Linked DNA regions of Homo sapiens: region 1 is linked to region 2. The links come from fine-mapping of genetic effects on gene expression. Tissue or cell type: whole blood. Region 2 holds a variant in brackets; the other region holds the start of a gene. All regions are shown on one strand. Distances are between the middles of the regions.

The links. PIP is the estimated chance that this variant, and not a neighbour inherited with it, causes the effect.
Region 1: LINC01237 starts here. The variant in region 2 is fine-mapped to the expression of LINC01237 in whole blood (INTERVAL, PIP 0.99).

The regions. Positions count from the first base shown.
Region 1 is chr2:241,877,729-241,885,900 of GRCh38, forward strand. It overlaps LINC01237 (long intergenic non-protein coding RNA 1237), which reads left to right and starts at 3,635. Exons shown (of 4, transcript NR_110220.1): 1 at 3,635-3,750; 2 at 4,832-4,907. It overlaps LOC105373978 (a long non-coding RNA gene), which reads right to left and starts at 3,599. Exons shown (of 3, transcript XR_924077.3): 1 at 3,387-3,599; 2 at 3,141-3,289; 3 at 1,306-1,548. RefSeq lists an enhancer at 3,065-3,655.
Region 2 is chr2:241,563,320-241,571,491 of GRCh38, forward strand. It overlaps BOK (BCL2 family apoptosis regulator BOK), which reads left to right. Exons shown (of 5, transcript NM_032515.5): 4 at 6,806-6,969. Among named protein-coding and RNA genes, the nearest start is that of BOK-AS1, 8.3 kb to the left of the region's middle. RefSeq lists an enhancer at 6,737-7,361. The variant C/T (reference allele first, on the strand shown) is at 4,699.

The DNA of each region.
Region 1 (8,172 bases), 310 kb after region 2:
CCACCCCCCATGCTCCTCACTCCCCACCCCCTTCCCACCCCCTTCCTGGTCCTTCTTTCCTACCCCTCCCCCGACCCTCCTTTCTCGGTCCTCCCAGCCCCCTCCCCGTCCCTCTCCCCTCCTCGTGTACCTGTCCAGCGCCCCTCTTTCTCTCTTCCCCTCCCCTCCCCTTCCTCTTTCCCCCTTCCCCCTTCCGGCCCCCCCAACCTGTCCCTCTCTCTGCTCCCCTCCCTCTCCTGGCCGCCCCCCAACCCCATCCCTCTCCTCGCTCCCCTCCCTCTCCCGGCCCCCCCACCCCCATCCCTCTCCTCCCTCCCCTCCCTCTCCTGGCCGCCCCCCCCACCCCTTCCCTCTCTCCTCGCTCCCCTCCCTCTCCCGGCCCCCCCACCCCATCCCTCTCCTCGCTCCCCTCCCTCTCCCGGCCCACTCCGCGCTGTCCTGCGGCGCCCCCGTGTGGCCGCTGTGGGGGAAGAGCAGACCTTGTTGTCGAGGGAGGCCTGGGAGGGCGTGGATCTCTGGGGCCGCTCCCTTGCCCTCATTGCTGTTGAACTGCTTCTCGGCTTAATCAGATGAGTTGTTAAAACTACCCATCATCAGCATTGTTACCATTGGTTTCATTAGTAATTGTATTTATTTAATTAATTGTTACATTCACTAGTAAAAATGGGAGCTAAGGCAATGCGTGCACTCACCGCTGTGAAGGCAAATGCGGTACTGTGAGTGCTGAATGCACCGCCATGGTCGCGGGAAAGCCCAGGCACAGACACTAGCTCAAAAGCCAAGGGTAGGCCTGGGGTTCACATGCCAAGCAGCAAGCTGAACTCTCACCCTGAGCCCACACCTGAGCCCTCATCTGAGGCTGCACCTGAGCCCACACCTGAGCTCTCATCTGAGGCTGCACCTGAGCCCACACCTGAGCCCTCATCTGAGGTTGCACCTGAGCCCTCCCCTGAGCTCTCGTCTGAGGCTGCACCTGAGCCCACACCTGAGCTCTCGTCTGAGGCTGCACCTGATCCCACACCTGAGCTCTCGTCTGAGGCTGCACCTGAGCCCACACCTGAGCTCTCATCTGAGGTTGCACCTGGGCCCACACTGGAACTTTAACCTGAGCTTACACCTGAGGCTGCACCTAAGCCCTCACCCGAGACTACACCTGAGGCTGCACCTGGGCCCACACCTGAATCCACACTGGAACTTTAACCTGAGCCTACATCTGAGCTCTTGCCTGAGTCTCCTATATGGTTGGAGTGGCCAGGTTGGGCCTAATTAAATATGAGGTAGCAGTAACGACTTTAGGCAACTGAGTTATTAGTAGAGATATTTAATATCAAAGTCAAAGAAGATGAAGGGCAGACACATTTTTAATGTAATTGCTATTAGTTCAGCCAAAGTTGAGGGGACTCAAAGTGTGAATACTTTTCTGACTTAAGGTACATTTCCTAGTGATGGGGGTCAGCTCATCCAGGGTCACATGTGGTTCCTGCTGAAACCAAGTCTGGGGTTCCCTGGGAGGGTCTGGCGAGAACTCTGACAGCAGCTCCCATCACCCTGTGGTGGATAAAGCGAATGCCTCTCTAAGTGTCTGGGGGTGGGGTAGGGTCTGTGCTGATTTATGTAGCTACCTGTTGCAGGGTTGGGTTAGGATCAGGTTGGTTACCCTGGACCCTGGGTATTCAGGTGGACAGGCGGGCCTTGGCCTTGGACAATGGCTAGCTAGGGTGGGCTAGAGCTGCTTCACCCGCAGCTTTGGCGAGGGGAGCGGGAGGCCAGGGAAGTCCCCAGGAGGAGTGGCCACGCTGTGATCCGGGCCCCGGGCTGGCTGGTAGGTGGAGGGTCACACCACCTGGGCCTCAGTGAGGTCCTAGCTGGAGCAGAGGTTCGGGGATCTCCTTCCCTTTCCTTCTGGGGCCTGGGACTTTGTACCTCTGTACAGGAGAGGCAGCAGAGGGCTGGGGTCCTGGCGATGCCTCCACTCTGCCTCCCAGCCTTTGGGGAATGTCTCCACCTGTTATGGCAAGTGTCCCTGTTTGCCTGGGACTTTGGGGGCTAAATTGGAGGCCTTTCTCTTTTTCCCCAAGTTCTCCAGCACACTTAGAAGCATCCGCCCACCCAGCTACACCCCTAAATTTTTCCCTTGATGCCCAGGGCCAGGCATCCTATGGCCATTTGATTACAGATGTCTGCAGGTGGCAATCTGAGTGCCTGTATGCTACTCCTGTGGGCAGCTAGCACCCTGGTACCCCTGGGAACAGAGCGTGAATGCCTTTAAAGCTAGTTGGAGCAGAGAACCAATTCCAGACACCCAGAGACATTTAGATAACTCATTACTAGGGTCCTGGCCCTGGGATCACTCCCAGGACTAGTTCTGTGTCTGTCCAGGTGTGATCCAGGAGTGCAGTGACGGATGTGGATGTGGGATTGGCACAGGACTTCCGCCAGCAGAAGAAAGGAAGGGAGGGGAGGGGAAGAGAGGGCAGGGGAGCAGAGCGGAGGAGAGAGGGGAGCAGTCTTTCCAGCTGGGGCTGGCCTAGGCTGCTGGGTCATTTGGGAAGAAAAGGTGATTTGGACTCAGGGAGACTGAGGGTGCCCTCGGGCCAGCATCTGAGGAGAGTGACAGGGGTTTCCTGGCTCCACAGCCCCAGGTGGCCTTGGTGGGTGCAGGCAGAAAATGACCTTTTCAAGTCCAGTTCCAACCCAGAGGGGGTTCCTAGACCCAGCGCCAATCAAGGGGCACCAGGGAGGCAGCAGAGGTTCCCGCAAATCCAGAGCAGAGTGGCTGCCAGACACCCCACATCCTCTTCGCAGCAGACTGAAGGCCACCCCACACTTGGAGGAGCCCGGGTGAAGCATCTGGGGAAGACCCTCAGCCCTGGGAGAGTCCCTCCAGGGGTGAGCAGGTGGGCTGCCCCTCAGGGTGCGGCTCATTTCGATGTAAGTTTTATAAAATAAGAAAAGGCGCCCTATAGCACCCCTTTGGGAGCCTCGTGTCACCTCCAAACATATACCTCGCTTCCAGGTCAGAAGTAGTGAAATGACCATTGCCAATGCAAATGGAACTGCCTTAGGACACATGGGGGAGGTTAGGGCCTGCTGTGGGGCCTTATGGTGGGCCCCGAGGGGCCCCGCACACCTGTGCTCACCTCCCAGGTCATCGCTGGGCCGCCTCTGTCCCCTGGGAGGCTCTGCCTCGGGGAGCCCTCTTCCCAAGCTCCCAGCAATGACTTCCAGGCCTCCCTCAGCATCAAGAGGAGCCACGTCTTCTTCTTGTGACCCAGCAGTATAATTCACCCTAAATAATGGCAGAATGGGTTGTGTGTAGTCTTTAAAAGTCAAAACAATTTTGCACACAACAGGAGTCATTCAGCAGTGGCTAACACTCTCCTGACCTGTGTCGGCGCTGGGCTCCAAGGTGTACCTCCGCACGCATGGGGTTAACTACGCCCCCATGACCATTCCCTGCAGGAGGGGCGGGACAGAGGACTGCGTTATGTTTCTCCTAAAAGAAAATCATGAAAGTCACACACTCCAGGTGCCACACTTATTATGGAGGGAGGGAAAGCAGATGAGCGGGCGGGAAAACTAGCGGGCTTGCCACGCCCAGGCAGCGCTGCTCGGGTTTCCGCTTCCTCCGCCCCTTCCTTTTTCTCTGTGCATCCTCAGTGACGCGGGGCACAGCTCTGCCCGGGGGCCTACCAGAGCCCACCTGGACCCCACACTGGGTCAGCCCTGGTGCGGAGGAGGCCGCTGTAGGTGGGCACGGGGCAGCACGCGTTAAGGGGCTGGACGGGGGGTGGCCATGCGTGTGAGGGCGCTGAGCAGGGGCGTGCCCATACGTGTGAGGGGGCTGGGTAGGGGCGTGGCCCAGCGTGTGTGTGTGTGTGTGTGTGTGTGTGTGTGTGTGTGTGTGTGTGTGGCTGGACAGGGGTGTGGCCACGCGCGAGGGGGCCGTGCAGGGGGCGTGGCCACGAGCGAGGAGACTAAGGGGCGTGGTCACGCGTGTGAGGGGCTGGGCTAGAGGAGTGGCCCTGTGTGCGGGGGCTGGACGGGGGCGTGGTCATGTGCGAGGAGGCTGAACAGGGGGCGTGACCACGTGTGGAAGGGGGCTGATCGGAGGTGTGGCCACATGTAAGGGGGCTGGGCAGGGGGTGTGGCCACGTGTGAGGGGGGGCTGGGCCGGGGCGTGGCCACACGTGTGCTGGCTCTGCTGTGGGCTTCCTTCCCTTCCTGTGCAGGTGGTGGTGCCCTCTGCGCCTTCACTGGGGCCCAGCCAAGTAACTGAATCCAGCCAGGAGCAAGGGCAGACGCTGGCACAGGTCCTGCCACTGTCCCCAACCTGGGTTTCAACACAGCTGAGGCCTGGCATAGTCTTTCTGGGCGCCTCTGGCTGGCTCGGTCTGAAAGGTGGGACAGATGCAACTGGGGCCTCCCCGGGTGCAGCGTGGGTGGCTCCTGGCTGGGGAAGTGAGAAGCCCTCCGTGCGGTGTCTCTGAAGCAGCCCCAGGCCAAGGCTGTGGCGTGCTTGGTGGTGCTGTAGGCCCAAGATGTTTATGGGTCGAGGGTCCCCGGGGCCGGGATTCTGATCCCTGGTGAGAGGTGGCTGGGAGGAAGTCCAGACGTGTCCTGAGTGGCCATTCCTCACACTGAGGTGACACCGCCTCTCCAAACACGTGACGTGGCTGGAAGCAGATGCTGCTGTCCGGTTCTCCCTCCTCTCCGTCCCTGGCTGGGACATGTGGATCTCACCCGCAGCCACTTTCTTCTGGCCTCTGTCCCCCTGCCTGGGACACGTGGACCTCACCCCCAGTCTCCTTCTCTCCTCTGCCCCCCGCAGGCGCGGCCAGGTCACAGTCGGCACCAGAAGTTTGGCAGATCTCAGTGAGGCGTTAGTTTGCATTTCCTTGTGACGGGTGAGTTGAACACCCTTTCATGAGTGTATTGATCACTGTGTACCTTCTTTGTTGAAATGTCGTCAGTATTTAAAGTCACAAATCTTCCTCTAAGACTATGCTACAATTTTTGTGTAATATTTTGATGGATATTTGAAATAAGTGCTAATTTTCTTTGGATTTCTTCTTTGACCCATGCTTTATTTAGAAGAATCTCTTTATGTGTGTATTTATTTTTTAAACCCTCTATTCTGAGAAGCATATTTAGAAGAGTATTGCCCACTTTCCAAATATGTGGAGAGTCTAAAAGGAATCTTGCTATTACTGATTTAATTCCATTTTGATCAAGGAACAAACTGCAGGATCTCACTTTTTAAAATTACAGAGACTTATTCTTACTGTTTAACATAAGCCCTATCTTTGTAAATGCTCCGTATACACTCAAAAATTACTTGTGTTCTGCAGCTGTGGGGTGGGATGCTCGCCAAGAGTTAATGAGGTGCAGCTGGTTGACAGTGCTCTTTAAACCGGCGAATCCTTCCTGTCCCACCCGCTGTGCTTGCAGTCCCGAGAGAGCTGTTACATCTCCAACTAGGACAGTGAATTTCTCTATTCTTTCAGTTCCGTCCGTTTTTACTTCGTGTTTTTTGAAACTGTTATTATCTTTTTAGGCATTTAGGATTTTTCTGTGATCCTGACAGTGGCTGACCATGGTGTCATCATGGAATGTCCCTCTTTATCTTCAGGGGTGCTACCTGGTCTAATGTGAGTGTTCCAGGGCTATTTTCTTATGCACAGAATTGGCACTGTGTATCTTTTCCTTTTTCTATTCTTTTTTCTTTTTTTTTTCTTTTTCAGACAGAGTCTTGCTCCATTGCCCAAGCTGGAGTGCAGTGGCGCGATCTTGGCTCGCTGCAAGCTCCACCTCTCGGGTTCACGCCATTCTCCTGCCTTAGCCTCCCGAGTAGCTGGGACCACAGGCACCCGCCACCACGCCTGGCTAATTTTTTTGTATTTTTTTTAGTAGAGACGGGGTTTCACCGTGTTAGCCAGGATGGTCTTTATATCCTGACGTTGTGATCCTGCCCACCTTGGCCTCCCAAAGTGCTGGGATTACAGGCATGAGCCACCGTGCCTGGCCACTTTTTTCCTTTTTTTTTTTTTTTTTGAGACAGGGTCTCACTCTGTTGCCCGGGCTGGAGTGCAGTGGTGCCATCTTGGCTCACCACAGCCTCGACCTCCTGGGCTCAAGTGATCCTTCCACCTCAGCCTCCAGAGTAGCTGAGACCACAGGTGTGCACCACCACACCAGGCTAATTTTTTTTTTGTATTTTTCAAACTCCTTTTTTTTTTTTTTGAGATGGAGTTTCACTCTTGTTGCCCAGGCTGGAGTGCAGTGGCGCGATCTTGGCTCGCTGCAACCTCTGCCTCCTGGGTTCAGGCAATTCTCCTGCCTCAGCCTCTCCAGTAGCTGGGATTACAGGCACAAACCACCATGCCTGGCTAATTTTTTTCGTATTTTTAGTAGAGACAGGGTTTCACCGTGTTGGCCAGGCTGGTCTGGAACTCTTGACCTCAGGTGATCTGCCTGCCTCAGCCTCCCAAAGTGCTTGGATTACAGGTCAAACTCTAAGACTCAAGTGATCCTCACTCTTGTGCCTACCACAATGCTGGGACCACTCCTGGACCACTGTGGATCTTTTTCTATCCTTTAGACACCCAACCTGTCTTTGTATCTTACGTGGGTGTCTGTAGATGGAGTTGGGTCTTGGTGACAATCCCTGCTTTGCACATGGAGTTTCTCCATTTGCAATTCCAGTAATGATTGATGAGGTTGCTGTAGATCCCCCATCTTGCTACTTGTTTTCTAAGTGTCTTATCTTGTCATTTGTTTTTTATTTGTCATTTTTTTGTTCCTTTGTTCCTCCATTCCTGCCTTTTTTGGGTTAATTGAAATTTTTTAGTACTTCGTTTTACACCTCTGTTGGTCTTTTAGCTGTGCCTCTTGGTATTACCATTTTTAGTAGTTACCCTAAAGACAACAAAATGAATCCTTAATTTATCAGCCTATTCACCTCACACAAAATGTGGGAAACTTGTAACGGTGTAATTCCTCTAACCCTGTTCTTCCTGTTACAGTTGCCATATGTTTAACCTCTACCTACATTACAAACTCCGTAACACAATGCTACTTTTGCTTTAGACAATCTTTTGAATAAATTAAAGTTAACTTTTTAAGAAATTAACTGTCAGTTGGGTGTGGTGGCTCATGTTTGTGATGCCCAAATTTTAGGAGGCAGAGGCAGGAGGATTGCTTGAACTTAGGAGTTCGAGACTGCTTTCGGAAACACAGTGATACCTCGTCTATTAAAAAGAAAGCAAACTAGCCGAGCATGGTGGTGTGCACCTGTAGTTTCAGCTGCTCGGGAGGCTGAGGCAGGGGGATCCCTGGAGCCCAGGAGGTTGAGGCCGCTGTGAGCCATGGTCACTTTCCTCCCCATCTCCCCTGTCCGGCATCCACACAGCTCCTTCTCTGTTGTCCCAGGCCAACCCCAGCCCTGGTGCTATGCCCTCCTCTCACTGCGCCCTTGTTTCCCCGAGCTCTGCCTCCTATGGTGGCAGAGTGGGAGGGGGAGGGTGGGAAGCATGGCTCACAGTTGGCTCCATCACAGTGGCCCTGTATTTGTCCAGTTTCACAGCCATTTGCTGGAGGAACGCAGGTCCAGCACTGGCTACCCTGTCACGGCAGGGGTGACCTCTTACCAGCCTAGCAGCCCAGAGGCGCCCCAGGTGGGGAGGTGGCAGGTGGACACCGGGTCCCGTGTGTTGTGGCAGTGAAGCCTGCAGCCCACCAGAGCTCCAACAGCAGAGAAACAGGCTGTGAGTGTAAGCGTGGAATTGCTGTGAGCCATGGCGCCAGCAGCATGTGCTGCAGAGACAGCTAATCAATTAGCCCCTCCGTGCTGGGTGCTGTGTGTGCACCATTAAAGAGCTCACGGGGAGAGAAATGCAGACTCCTCTGGGGGCCCCAGGGTGGATTGCACCACTCAGCATGTTCTATTGAGTGCCTTTCCCTGCAGTGCGTGCTTTCTGAGGCTGTAATTTTGAGTGTGTCTTTCAAGGCTGCAGCCCTTAAGCAGTACAGCCTGGGTGTTCAGCTGGATAATCCTGTAAGTGAAGTTTGAGTGGTTTAACTGCCTACAGCAGGTGGGAGCTCGGGTGGTGGGGAGCATCTGGGGTTTCGAGGAGTCTGAGCCTCTGTGCAGGGCTGCAGGCTGTGGACGGG
Region 2 (8,172 bases):
CAGACCTCAGCCCCCTGCCTTTGACCTCTGTGACCTTGGGTCCTGTCCTGGCACCCCGTGCTATGAGCTGCCCCTGGGTGTGGCAGGCGCTGGGTGCTGCTGTTGGGGTGAGTGGTGCGCCGGCCCTGATGTGGCACCTCCCTGATTGGCACATTCCTCAGCTGTTTTCCAAGTGCTGTCCAGGTGCTGGGCACAGCTCTGGGCCAGTGAACCCCGGGGTGCGCAGGATTCCCTGAAGCTTGGAGGAGGGGCATGCTGTTCCCCTGGGGCAGTTTTTTGGAAGACCCCTGACAGCAGGGAGGCCTTGCACACCCTTGTCTGGGAGCTGGTGTGGGTCCGTGGCCAGTCAGCTGTGTGACTGTGGCCTGCTGTCATCTCTGTGGCCTCAGCTGCCTTGTCTCCAGGCAGTCCTGACAGCAGCAGGAGCCAGGCATCAGGCGCCAGAGGAAGCCACACCCTCGCTGTGGGAGATGCATCCCACGCCACGGGGTGACCCTCAGAGCCAGGGGTCTTCAGATGGCCTCGGGACCTCCACCCACCGGAGGGCAAGGGGAAGAGGCCAGGAGTGTGAGGACCACTGCCTCTCGCTCAGGCAGACCCCACCTTTGTGGGGTGTCCTCCAGCTCCTCTCCCAGACGTCTCCTCCGACCCCTGGTGGGCCAGCCAGATGGGGACAGAGCGGGGCTGACACCCTCGGCTGGAGGCCAAGGCGGCGGGGGCTGCGAGCATTTTCTGACAGAATCCGGCCTCTCCAGTGCCACGCTTGCTCACTGCTGACCTCCCTGGACAGAAGTTACTGTGGCTGGGATGCAGCGGCGACCTGGCAGGCTGCTGGAGCGGGAAGGCTGAGTCCAGGGATGGGAGTCCAGGCGGGGTCTGGTCCTGCCTCCGGGCTTGTCTTGTTGCCACAGCATGTGCTGGAGTGCCTCAGACCACACCTGGGGAGGGGCAGTGACCTCAGGCTGTGGTGTGGGGTCAGGAGGCGGAACCAAGCTGGGTGCGGGCGAGACTCCCTGTCTGGCGCTCCTGGGGTGGCCTCAGAGCCTGGACTCTGTCACTGCTCCTGTGTTCCTTTGGGAGATCGTAAATGAATCCTCATTGGCAGTTTGGCTCCAAGGCCCCCACGTGGCAGCTGAGGGTGGGGGGCCGGGCCCAGGCCAGGCTGAGGCGTGTCATGGGGCAGACCTGAGTCGGCTGGGGGTGCATATGGGTAGGGGCTGGGGAGTGGGCAGGTGGTGTGGCTCAGGGGCCGGGTGGGCAGGGGGCAGGGTTCACGGCACAGTGGGCAGCGGAAGCATGGTGGCAGGAGCTGGCAAGCTGGTGCCCGCCCCTCCTGCCGCCAGGGTGACCCAGGCAGGCACGGGGCAGGCAGTGGGTGGGGCCCCGGAAGGAAGCCAGGGGTGGAAGGCATCCTGGGCTGACGACCACTCTCAGCCCTCCCTTGGCCGACGCCGGCGCGTGGGTGGCCACCCGGGTGTCTGTCTCGGGGCCGCTGGGTTTACGAGCTGCAGGCTGGCTTTAAAAGGAACAGTCATTTCTGAGAATGCAGCAGCCTGCCCAGAGGTGGGGCGCCTCCCCCTTCGGCAGGGAGAGAGGATGGGGCCAGGATGCCCCTACCCGCCCGGCCTTGCTTGAGCAGGGCCTGGCCTGAGGTGGGGGCGGTGCCTAGGAAGGCTCTGGTTGGTTCTGGGAGGGCACCTGGGGGCCAGGGAGGGCTGAGGGGAAGGGGATGGCTGGACGAGCGGGCACACAGCTGACGGGGAATGTGGGCGGCACCGGCCAGGTGGCCCGGGCTATGTGTAGAGTTCAGTTTAAGTCTTGTTTTCACTGGAAAACCGGAGCCCACTCCCCTGTGGTCAGCATCCCCCACCCCACCCAGCGCCCCAGGCTTGTCCCACGCAGGCCCGGCTCTGGCCATGTGGCAGCCCCCACACCCCCACCTGCTGCTACTCTGAGGCGGCCCTGCCCGAGGGGAGCCACGCAGGTTGAAGCCCAAGAGCCTCGTGACCTGCAACGGGTTTCTGAACCTCCCTGAACCAGAGCCACCTGACTAGGGAGCTAGGGCAGGGCCGCCCCTTCTGCCCCTCAGGCCCACTGGCAGTTGCACCCCCAGCCCCCTTCACCTTTGTCCATCCCAGTCCTCTTGGGCCCTTTTGTCTACAGGGCGAGCCTCCAGCCTCCAAGTGCTTTACACATCCTTGCCTCCCTGCCTGAGGCCCCTCCCACGCCAGCCATCCCTGCACGCTCTGACCCCCGGTCTTCCTCCCTCTCCTCCTCTTAGCAGGCGCCCTTGAGGGTGTGCGCCCTGCCCAGCCCCTCCACTGCAGGCAAGCTGCACAGCCCGCACCTCAGGGCTGGGGCCTTGGCTAGTGTTGTGAGCCGTGTGAGGGCTGCAGGGCAGGGCTCCGTGGGGGTCTCCAAGTCTCCAGCCCCAGGAGACTCCCACGAAGGCAGAGGCCAACAAATGTTGTTTCTGGCTGTTTTCATTTAGGGCTTCAAAGTTCCTGCTCAGGACTTTGGAAAAACTCATCTCCAAAGTGGTAGAACTCAATTTTCCTCCCCATTTAAAAGTTGGCAATAGTGTTTATTTTTTTCTTTGAATTTGAATTGTATTTTCTATAAATACATATGTAATTTTATATAATTCTTCTAATTATAGTTTTATTATAAGAAAAATAAAAATGGCTGGGTGCAGTGACTCACGCCTGTAATCCCAGCACTTTGGGAGGCCGAGGTGGGTGGATCACCTGAGGTCGGGAGTTTGAGACCAGCCTGACCAAAAAGAAGAAACCCTGTCTCTAATAAAAATACAAAATTGGCCAGGTTTGGTGGCACATGCCTGTAATCTCAGCTACTCGGGAGGCTGAGACAGGAGAATCGCTTGAACCCGGGAGGCGCAGGTTGCGGTGAGCCGAGATTGTGCCACTGCTCTCCAGCCTGGGTGACAGAGGCAGACCCTATTCTTTCTTTTTTTTCTTTTTTCTTTTTTTTTTTTGAGATGGAGTTTCACTCTTGTTGCCCAGGCTGGAGGTGCAATGGTGCGATCTCGGCTCACTGCAACCTCCATTTCCTGGGTTCAAGCAGTTCTCCTGCCTCAGCCTCTCGAGTAGCTGGGATTACAGGTATGTGCCACCACGCCTAGCTAATTTTTGTATTGTTAGTATTATTTATATTATTAGCAGACAGAGTTTCACCATGTCAACCAGGCTGGTCTCGAACTCCTGACCTCAGGTGATCCACCCACTTCGGCCTCCCACAGTGCTGGGAAAAAACACAAATCAGACCATGTCACTTCCCTGCATAAAGTTCTCGTGTTGCTGTGACTTCCCGTGTCTTTCAAAGTAAACCTAAGTTTGAATTCCCAGCTGAGCTGGCCCCTGGCAGACTCCAGCCCTTTTCCTGCCACCTCAACCTGTGAAATACGCCAGACACAAAATGAACAAGCCGTGTGATTACACTTATGTGAAATTTTCAGGGTAGGTAAATCTACAGAGACAGAAAGTAAGATGAGTGGCTGCCAGGGGCTGTCGGTGAAATAGGGAGTGACTGCTAGTGGGCATGGGGTTTCTCGTGGGATGATGAAAATGTTCTAGAATTAGATAGAGGTGATGGTTGCACAGCTTTGTGAATATGCTCAAAGATATCCCACTTTTAAAAGATTAATTTTATGGTAATGGAATTATATCAGTTAAAAAGACACAGAAGAGCTGGAAGGACACAGTGGACGCCGAGGCTGGTGCCTCCGGACTCCTGTCTTCCTGTCTTTCTTTCCCATCCACCCCTCTGGAGTGGAAATGTTGCCATCACTCGGAACATAGTATGTTCTTTTTTTTTTTTTTAATTTTTGCTCTTTTGCCGAGGCTGGAATGAAGAGTTGTGATCTTGCAACCTCCGCCACCCGGGTTCAAGCGATTCTCCTGCTTCACCCTCCTGAGTAGCTGGGATTACAGGCACCCGCCACCATGCTTGGCTAATGTTTGTATTTTTAGTAGAGATGGGGTTTCACCATGTTGGCCAGGCTGATCTTGAACTCCTGACCTCAGGTGATCCGTCTGCCTCAGCCTCCCCAAGTGCTAGGATTATAGGCATGAGCCACCGCACCCAGCGTGGAATGCACTGTTCTGATGGAACCGGACACCTCAGAACAGGTTGTCCCGCAAGCCACACGCAGTGCTGACATCAGGCTCCGCTCCCCGCATGGCCGTGCCCTTGAAGGAGGAACAGCCCCACGTGCTGGGGAAGTGCAGCGGGTAGAGCAGGGGCTGTGCCGGGTGTGCGCATCCCACCAATGACAAGGGCACCTTCGAGGTTGGGGTGGCAGGAAAAGGGCTGGAGTCTGCCAGGGGCCAGCTCAGCTGGGAATTCAAACTTGGGTTTACTTTGAAGGACACGGGAAGTCACAGCAACACGAGAGCTTTATGCAGGGGAGTGACATGGTCTGAGTTGTGTTTTTCCCCATTTCTTTTAATTGACGTTAAACTCACATGACATAATTATCCACTTAAAAGTGTGCAATTCAGCAGCATCTGCCACATTCCCAGTGTGGAGCAGCCACCAGCTACTAGTCTCAGGAGGTCTTTATCACCCCAGAATGCCTGTGCCCGTGGCCGCCACCGCCATTCCCCACCCCTCGCCCACTGCCAGCCGTGAGCCTGCGTCCCAGCTCTGTCCCTGACTGTTGTGGACATTTTGCATCCA[C/T]GGACTCACACTGTATGTGGCTTTTTATGCCTGGCAGCTTCCACCCAAGCATGTGTTTTTGAGGCCCATCCATGCCCAGCCTGCCTCAGAGCCCCATGCCTTCTTTTATTTATTTATTATTTATTTATTTTTTCACTCTATTGCCCAGGCTAGAGTGCAATGGCGTGATCTCGGCTCACTGCAAGCTCCGCCTCCTGGGTTCACACCATTCTCCTGCCTCAGCCTCCCGAGTAGCTGGGACTACAGGCACCAGCCGCCATGCCCGGCTAATTTTTTGTGTTTTTAGTAGAGATGGGGTTTCACCGTTTTAGCCAGGATGGTTTCGATCTCCTGACCTCGTGATCCACCTGCCTCGGCCTCCCAAAATGCTGGGATTACAGGCGTGAGCCACCGCGCCCAGCCATTTATTTATTTTTTTGAGATAGAATCTTGCTCTGTCTCCCAGGCTGGAGTACAGTGGTGCGATCTGGGCTCACTGAAACCTCCACCTCCTGGGTTCAAGTGATTGCCCTGCCTCAGCCTCCCGAGTAGCTGGGATTACAGGCGCCCACCACCATATCCGGCTAATTTTTGTATTTTTAGTAGAGATGGGGTTTCACCATGTTGGCCGGGCTGGTCTTGAACTCCTGACCTCAGGTGATCTGCCCACCTCGGCCTTCCAAGGTGCTGGGATTATAGGCGTGAGCCACTGTGCCCAGCCTGCCTTCTGTGGCTGAGTAACATCCACCACATTTGTATCCATTTATCTGTTGAAGGATACTTGGGTTCTTTCCACCTTTTGGCAATTGTGAATTGGCTGCTGTGAATGTCTGTGACTGAGTGTTTGTTTGAGCTGATTTATGTTTTCATAACAAATCCAGGTTGGCCGCTGTATGAGGGTGGATTGGAGAGCAGTGCTTCATCTTTGCATGTACAGTGTCCTCAGGCTAACTCCCTCCAGGGACCACTGCTGACTCCCTCCGGGGACCGCTGCTAACTCCCTGCGGGGATCACTGCTGGGCTGCATGTTTTGTGGCCATTCAGATACTGCCAGTGCCCTCAAGCTGGGCTTCCCACCAAGGTTTACAAGGCTGTGCAGTGGCCTGAATCCTCACACTGCCATTTAAAAGCATGTATTTATTTATTTATTTAGAGACGGGGTCTCGCTCTGTCGCCCAGGCTGGAGTGTACTGGCGCGATCTCAGCTCACTGCAACCTCCGCCTCCCCGGGTTCAAGTGATTCTCCTGCTTCAGCCTCCCGAGTAGCTGGGATTATAGGCGCGTGCCACCACGCCTGGCTAATTTTTTGTGTATTTTTAGTAGAGACGGTTTCACCATGTTGGTCAGGCTGCTCTTGAACTCCCAACCTTGTGATCTGCCCGCCTCGGCCTCCCAAAGTGCTGGGATTCCAGGCGTGAGCCACCGCGCCTGGCGTAAAAGCTTTTAATGCAACAGATTACATTTTGTTTTAATTTGCCTTTCTTTGGTTATTAATGAAGGTAAACATTTTTCGTGTCTCTTATTATAATTTTCTTTTGTGAATCAGCTGTTCCAGTTCTGTGCTCATAGTTCTTTTTTGAAAGCCTCTCTTTTCTCGCTCACGTATAAGACGTCTTTCCGTGTTGAGGCGTCGTGTCCTGCCTTTTATTCTTTCCCCCGCTGTCACCATCTTTCGTCCTCTCTTTCAAGGCTGCTCCCATCTCAGTTCAGCCTCAGCAGGTTAGGGGTCTGGGGAAGGCAGTTTCTCTGCGGGCCTCAGCTTCTTTATGTGTAAAATGTGGACGCCAGGCCTGTTGTGGGAACAGGCAGCCCAGGGGTGCCACCCGTGAGGTCACTGGCTGCTCACTCCATCTGCTGCTGCCCTCAGTTCCCTCGCCTCACCCCACGTTGTCCCTGCGGCCTCCTGCACAGACGTGGGCTGGGCAGGTGTGCAGTGGAGGCCGAGAAACCTGCCTGCCCAAGAACTACCTGACAGGCATCCTGTCAGGGAGCGGTCCCCCCTTGGGACGGTCCCTGGTCATTAGCTGGACGGCAAGCAGGACAGCGGCTCAGAGAGGCCCAGCCCCTTCCTTAAGTGCTCCCGTGGGCGGGATTCAAGTCCTGATCTTGACCATCTCTCTCCCTGCAGGCATCACGTGGGGCAAGGTGGTGTCCCTGTATGCGGTGGCCGCGGGGCTGGCCGTGGACTGTGTGAGGCAGGCCCAGCCTGCCATGGTCCACGCCCTCGTGGACTGCCTGGGGGAGTTCGTGCGCAAGACCCTGGCAACCTGGCTGCGGAGACGCGGCGGATGGGTGAGCGCCTGAGTGCCCGTGTGGGTGGGAGAGCTGGGGTGCGAGGGTGCAGAGGTACAGGAGGGAGTGGTGGATGGGTGAGCCTCTGAGCGCCTGGGGGGTGGGAGAGCTGGGGTGCGAGGGTACAGACGTACGGGAGGGAGTGGCGGATGGGTGAGTGTCTGAGCGCCTGGGGGGTGGGAGAGCTGGGGTGCGAGGGTGCAGAGGTACGGGAGGGAGTGGCGGATGGGTGAGCCTCTGAGCGCCTGGGGGGTGGGAGAGCTGGGGTGCGAGGGTACAGACGTACGGGAGGGAGTGGCGGATGGGTGAGTGTCTGAGCGCCTGTGGGGGTGGGAGAGCTGGGGTGCGAGGGTGCAGAGGTACAGGAGGGAGTGGTGGATGGGTGAGCCTCTGAGCGCCTGGGGGGTGGGAGAGCTGGGGTGCGAGGGTACAGACGTACGGGAGGGAGTGGCGGATGGGTGAGTGTCTGAGCGCCTGTGGGGGTGGGAGAGCTGGGGTGCGAGGGTGCAGAGGTACAGGAGGGAGTGGTGGATGGGTGAGCCTCTGAGCGCCTGGGGGGTGGGAGAGCTGGGGTGCGAGGGTACAGACGTACGGGAGGGAGTGGCGGATGGGTGAGTGTCTGAGCGCCTGTGGGGGTGGGAGAGCTGGGGTGCGAGGGTGCAGAGGTACAGGAGGGAGTGGCGGATGGGTGAGTGTCTGAGCGCCTGTGGGGGTGGGAGAGCTGGGGTGCGAGGGTGCAGAGGTACGGGAGGGAGTGGCGGATGGGTGGTCACCTGAGCACTCCTGGGGGAGATGGGTGAGGCAGGGGGTGGGGCAAGGGCCGAGACCTACAGGCAGGCCCTGGACTCTCCTCTGCCCAGATCCAGCACTGACTTACCCCCGATCCTACCCCTGTGCTAAGGACCCGCTGCCCCAGCCCCCGCCCTCCCGAGTGGGAAAAGCAAGGCCCCGAGGGGTGGGTGTCAGAGCCAAACCCTTCCTCTGTCTCCACGCCCCCAACTTCCTGCCCTGCTCCGGCCAGACCGCAGTTGCCGCTGGGCCCTGGGTGTGGAGGGTGGCTCCCCTGCCGAGAGTCTAGCCTTCTTTCCTGTACAGCGGGTGTTGGCCTGGTGTGTAAATCAGCGGCCAGGGGTGACAGCGCTCAGACCCCTCTGCTGGGGCCTTAGCTTTAGCATCTCGAGAGATTGAGGTCACGTGGTCTGC